Linked DNA regions of Homo sapiens: region 1 is linked to region 2. The links come from fine-mapping of genetic effects on gene expression. A gene starts in region 2. The other region holds a variant in brackets. All regions are shown on one strand. Distances are between the middles of the regions.

Region 1 (2,909 bases), 84 kb before region 2:
TTCTCATGCAAAAATTCAAATACATATTTTTAAAAAATTTTAAGGAAAAGCTCAATTTTTACCTTTAATTCTTTCATCTGGAATTTTACTTGGTTACAGAATTACATGATGAACTTTTAACACCTTTCAAAACTTTAACTTAATTTCCAACCATTGTTTTTTTTTTTTTTGACACAGGCTTCTCACTCCGTCACCCAGGTTGGAGTGCAGTGGCACAATCACAGCTCATTACAGTCTTGACTTCCCAGCCTCCAGTGAGTCTCCCACCTCAGCCTCCCAAATAGCTGGGACTACAGGATGTGCCACAATGCCTGGTTAATTTTTGTATTTTTGGTAGAGATGGGGTTTCTCCATTTTGCCTGGGCTGGTCTTGAACTCCTGACCTCAAGTGATCCACCTGCCTTGGCCTCCCAAAGTGCTGAGATTACAGGCCCTTCACCCCCTTGTTTTCTTTTTGTTTGTTTGTTTTTTAAAGACAGGGTCTCGCTCTTTGCCTAGGCTGGAGTGCAGTGCCCCGATCACAGCTCACCCCGATCACAGCTCACTGCAGCCTTGACCTCCTGGGCTCAGGTGATCTTCCCACTTCAGCCTTCCAAGTAGCTGTGATTACAAGTGCATGCCACACACTCGGCTAATATTTTTTAGTTTTTTGATAGAGATGGGGGTCTCACTATGTTGTCCAGGCTGGTCTTGAACTCCTGGGCTCAAGTGATCTTTCCACCTCTATCTCCAGAGTTGGGATTAGAGGTGTGAGCCACCGTGCCCAGCCCCAACAACTACTTGGAACTTATTTTGAAATAAAAAGCTCAAAGTTCATTTTGTTATTTTTTTTCTTTTTCCTTTTTAGAGATGGGGGTCTCATTATGTTGCCCAGGCTGGTCTTGAACTCCTGTGCCCAAACGATTCTCGCACTTCGGCCTCCCAAAGTGCTGGGATTACAGGCATGAGCCACTGTGCCCGGCCCACTTTGTTGTTATTCATTTCAATAAATTGCATGCGTTCCTCCAAGAAGTGCACTTGTAACTAATATAGAGTTATAATACATTCCATTATCTCTTCATGTCTCTGCATCACATTTTCCAAGGGTAACATCTTATCTACATGGCGGACTCCACAATTATTTAGATCTTTTATTTATGGTTAAGGTTTATTTAAACATTTTGGCTTTATTCCTATTAAAAAAGGAATGTTTTCTTCCCCATTATGTTATCTGATTTTTGGTGACATAAACTACTA[A/AT]TTTTTTTTTTTTTTTTTTTTTTTTGAGACGGAGTCTCGCTCTGTCACCCAGGCTGGAGTGTAGTGGTGCTATCTCGGCTCACTGCAACCTCCATCTCCCGGATTCAAGCGATTCTCCTGCCTCAGCCTTCTGAGTAGCTGAGACTACAGGCGTGTGCCACCAGGCCTGGATAATTTTGTTATTTTTAGTAGAGACGGGGTTTTGCCATGTTGACCAGGTTGGTCGCAAATTCCTGACCTCAGGTGATCCACCCGCCTCATCCTCCCAAAGTGCTGGGATTACAGGCATGAGCCACCATGCCCAGCCTATTAATTTTCAATATATATTTTATGCATCCAGATTATTAACTCTGACTCAATTAATTTTGTTTTCTTGTAGTAAACAGAACGCCTGGATGTAAGTCTTCACATCTCTTCTAGGAGAATTATTCTGATGTGTATAGCCAAGAGCATGTCAAAATTCCATGGGTCTCAATTTCCATACCAATAATAGCAACAGGTTACTTACTTCCTCGTGTGGCTTGCTTCTCATGATCTTTATCTGCATCACACTAAAGCAGCGGTCCCCAACCCCCATGCCACGGACCGCTGCTGGTCTGTGGCCTGTTAGGAATCACGCCCCATAGCAGCAAGTGAGCAGCAGGCAAGCGAGTGAAGCTTCATCTGTATTTACAGCTGCTCCTCATTGCTTGCATTACTGCCTGAGCTCCGCCTCCTGTTAGATCAGCAGCAGCATTAGATTCTCACAGAGCACAAACCCTATTGTGAACAGCACACGCGAGGATCTGTGTTGCATGCTTCTTATGAAAACCTAATGCCTGCTGATCTGTCACTGTCTCCATCATCCCCAGATGGGACCATCTAGTTGCAGGAAAATAAACTCAGGGCTCCCACTGAGTCTACATTATGGTGAGTTGTAGAATTATTTCATTATATATTACAATATGATAACAGTAGAAATAAAGTGGACAATAAATGTAATGCACTTGAATCATCCCCAAACCACCCCCGACCTGTCTGTGGAAAAACTGTCTTCGATGAAACCAGTCCCTGGTGCCAAAACAGCTCGGGACTGCTGCTCTGAGGAACATCCCTGGACCTAAATCTGACTGGCAGTGCACAGCCCCCAGGGGGCATGGCCTACCTGCTGGATGTGGGCATTGTTGGGTCCATTAATAAAATCTTCTAGCTCAGAAACACGGCTGGTTTTAGCCAAGGCAAAAATAAGTTCAGTCTCTATATAGGACTCACGGCCCTTTTTCCTGGCCATCTGCAGAAATTTAACTAGATCCTCCCAGTTGTCTAAAGACAGAAAACAAAGATAGGTTAACCCAGAGCTGATAATTTTAAACAAGGGCTCAATTCCTCCCATTCTGTTCTCAGCCAGACACATTTACCCTCCAGTTATGTCTCACTGGGAACTCAGACTCCAGATAACGTCTAGGAGGTCTTGATTATGCTCACTAAGCAGATCCATAGCTCAGAAGGGAGGAGGGGAGGGGCAGAGCCACACTCAGGCCACCTCCCTTAGAAAAGACTTTGCCAGGAGACAGAATGCTTGTTCTGGACATCAGAGAGGTCGGTGCCACAATCAACTTGAAACACCAGAAGATCCCTGGGAATTGTGGGCCTGTCACTCACTTTAAAATTACTACAGTGGCGATATTGAGATA
Region 2 (2,909 bases):
TGGGTTAGAACTCAAGCTTTGTCACTTACTAGCCATGTAACTTTTGCTGAAGGAATTAGAATATTAACCTCAGTGACCCATGGTAGAAAACAGGATATCACTATCTGCCTCAGTTATCATGAGGATTAAATTAAACCAGATTTATAAAATACAGTAGTCTAGTGAGTGGCAAGAGAAACGGCTCAGTAAATGATAACTACATCATCATCATTATTATGAGCAGCAGCAGTATTTTGCTACCTCAACATGACTGGTGCTGGCTTAGCTTAGTGGCAGAATGAAGCCCGGACAGATGTCAGGGCACTCCCACCTCCATACAACTTCCACTGTGTCACTAACCAAGTGACCCTGGCAGGATCCCCTGGATATCAAGTTTCCAGTCTGCAGAATGAGGGGACTGGACTGCACTACACAGTTCCCAAGGCTTTTCCCGTCTGCATCTAGGGCTAACAGTGCTCTGCACTGTGAAAATAGGAACTTTCAAGCAAGCACGTTCCTCGATGTACTACTTTGTGGTCAAAAAGACTTGAGTCTGAATCCTGTTCTTATTGAATGAAGATGAGTTCTTTAACACTTTTGAGACTCGGTTTCCTCATCTAGAAAAGAGTAAGCGAATCGCAACGAATGGTAGTGTGATGATTTAACACAGAGCACTCAGGGAGGAGCCGCTGGCTATCCCTCCTCTGCCGCACCTCCCAGGGTAAACGTGGGGACCAGCACCGCTCCCGGGCAGACCCGCGAGCGGCCCGCACGACGCCCGACCTGAGCCTTTGCTCAAAGCAGGGGGCCAGTCCTTATGTTTCTGAACACAAACAAATGGAGAACAAACTGGGACCTTATTAAAAAGGCAGGCTTTGGGGGTGTTACTGCATTGAAAAGCCCTATTTAGGCTTGGCCCTGAGAAATTTTTCTCTTGGGTCACGCATGTTCACGGTCCTCCCAGGCGAAGCCGCCCTGGGGACGAAAACCGATCACAGAGGCAAACTCAGGGGCGAATAAGGACCGCAGGACGCCAAGGAGGGGCGTGGAGCTGTGGGATCCGCGCGGCCCTTGGGTTGCCCTGCCTGCAGCGGGAATTTGTGTGCCTCCTCGCGGGCACTGAGCGGGGCGTCCCAGGGGGCGTTGGCTTCCACCCCCACCATTCCCCAGCCGGCCCCGCCGGTAACGGGCTTCGGCGACGGCACCCAAGCGGGTCCTCAGGAGCGGCCGCCGCGCCCGGGACGCCGCAGCCCCAGCCCAGGTGGGAGGTCGGAAATCGGCGCGGCCAGCTGGGCAGCGGCTCAGCGGGGCTGGGGGCGCGGGGTCAAGCCTGGCAGTCCGGCCCGGCGGAGGCGCGGCTGACAGGGCAGCCCCCCAGCCCGCCGGGCCTCACCTGGAAGTGCTCCTGAAAGCGAACAGGGAGGATCTGCGCCATGGCTGGTGCGGGACCTCGGCGGCGGCGGCGGCAGCGGCAGGAATGAACGCCGACCCCTCGCGCGGGCTGACCGGTGGCGACGGCGCAGGCGCAGTGCCCCGAGCTCCCGGTCCTGGCCCCCGCCCTCCTCCCTGACCGCGCCCCGGCCCGCACCCCCTTTCCCCGCCCCTTCCCCCGCCCCTGCCCCGCCCCTGCCCCGCCTCTGCCCCGCCCCTGCCCCCGCCCCTGCCCCCGCCCCTGCCCCCGCCTCTGCCCCGTCCCGCCTGCGCGGATCCCTCCGCCCGCTCCGAGGGTCCGCGGAAAGTAGTCCCGCGCGCCCTCTGCCCTGACGCGGTGTGTGCCAGCTACCCGAGTGAAAGGTTTTCGGGGGATTAATCCTGATGGGGTCTGCGGCGGCCCTTGCCCAGCGCCTTCCACATGTGGAGCGGGCCAGTGGTGCTAGTTCTGCCGCCAACTCTGGACGGTTGAGTTCAGGGCCACTTTTTACTCAGGCACGGATGTGACAGAAAGATGGAAAAGGGTCTTGGAAGAACCACATGTGCCGTATAACGAACGACCTTTTGGTCTGAGGAGGACCGTGTATATGACGGTGGTCCCATAACATGATAACGGAGCTGGAAACTTCCTGTCCTCTGGTGAGGGCTTAGCTAAGGACATTTCCTCTCCTGTATTTGGAGATACACGTACAGGTATGTCATTACCGTGCCAGGGGAATAACGCACCTCACACGCGGTGCGGGTTTGCGGCCTAGCAGCAGCGGACCGCATCAGCTGCCTAGTTGTGTAGTGGCTGTGCCATCTGAGTTTGTGTAAGTTACCTTGTGATGATCCCACAACCGAGACGCATGTCTCAGAATGCATGGATGCATGGGACGCGTGACTGTACGTGTTACAGACGTGTTTCGGCGTGAGGCTCGGCCCCTGCTCCTTTAGGAAACACCTTTCCTGGCTCATGCGGTTTCTAGAGAACACTGTGTCGGAATATCAATGTAGAGAGTCAGCGAAGGTCATCTAGCAGCAGATGACCAGCCCCAGGCCAGTGAGGATCACCCAGAGTGCCCGTGGCTGCACGACAGTAGTAGCAGGTGGAAGCTGGAGCCCACACCTGGTTTGCCCAGCAGCCAGTTGTTTTTCCGAGGCACCGTTGGCTGATGTTTTGCATACAGATGATTCAGCTGCATAAAAGATGTCTGTCAGGAAAGGGAAGCCCTTGGCATTCAGCACAGGCACTCCCTACGGGGTAATCGATAGCCGTCTCTGCTGCTTCCCATGTTGCTCACTGGTAATTTTAAGAAATGAACGGCCCACCTTGAATAAGACAAGGATGGTGCAATTATTTGCGCAATGGCTTGACCATCTAGTAGCCAAAAATATGTTAAGGAATAGAACAGACTGTTCACTTTCAAATTAAATCTCTTTTCCAGTATTAGCCAAGACCTCTGCAGCCCGCCCTTTCTAAAATCCATGTGGCCTCATCCGCTAAATATAGAGCTGGG

Direction of the effects. Alleles are on the strand shown, and positions count from the first base shown. SD is a standard deviation of normalised expression in the study named.
With allele A in place of AT in region 1, the expression in subcutaneous fat of the gene that starts at base 1,492 in region 2 is lower (large effect, 1.2 SD a copy in TwinsUK).

Evidence for each region. PIP is the estimated chance that this variant, and not a neighbour inherited with it, causes the effect. A credible set is the group of variants that fine-mapping cannot tell apart.
Region 1: its variant is the best candidate, but not a certain one, in a credible set for the expression of CLTCL1 in subcutaneous fat (TwinsUK, PIP 0.55).

What each region holds. Positions count from the first base shown.
Region 1 is chr22:19,205,774-19,208,682 of GRCh38, forward strand. It overlaps CLTCL1 (clathrin heavy chain like 1), which reads right to left. Exons shown (of 33, transcript NM_007098.4): 22 at 2,381-2,538. Among named protein-coding and RNA genes, the nearest start is that of SLC25A1, 28 kb to the left of the region's middle. The variant A/AT (reference allele first, on the strand shown) is at 1,237.
Region 2 is chr22:19,290,228-19,293,136 of GRCh38, forward strand. It overlaps CLTCL1 (clathrin heavy chain like 1), which reads right to left and starts at 1,492. Exons shown (of 33, transcript NM_007098.4): 1 at 1,373-1,492. The coding sequence starts at 1,414. It overlaps LOC105372859 (a long non-coding RNA gene), which reads left to right and starts at 1,720. Exons shown (of 6, transcript XR_938002.3): 1 at 1,720-2,103. RefSeq lists an enhancer at 681-1,194 and silencers at 1,305-1,489, 1,371-1,610.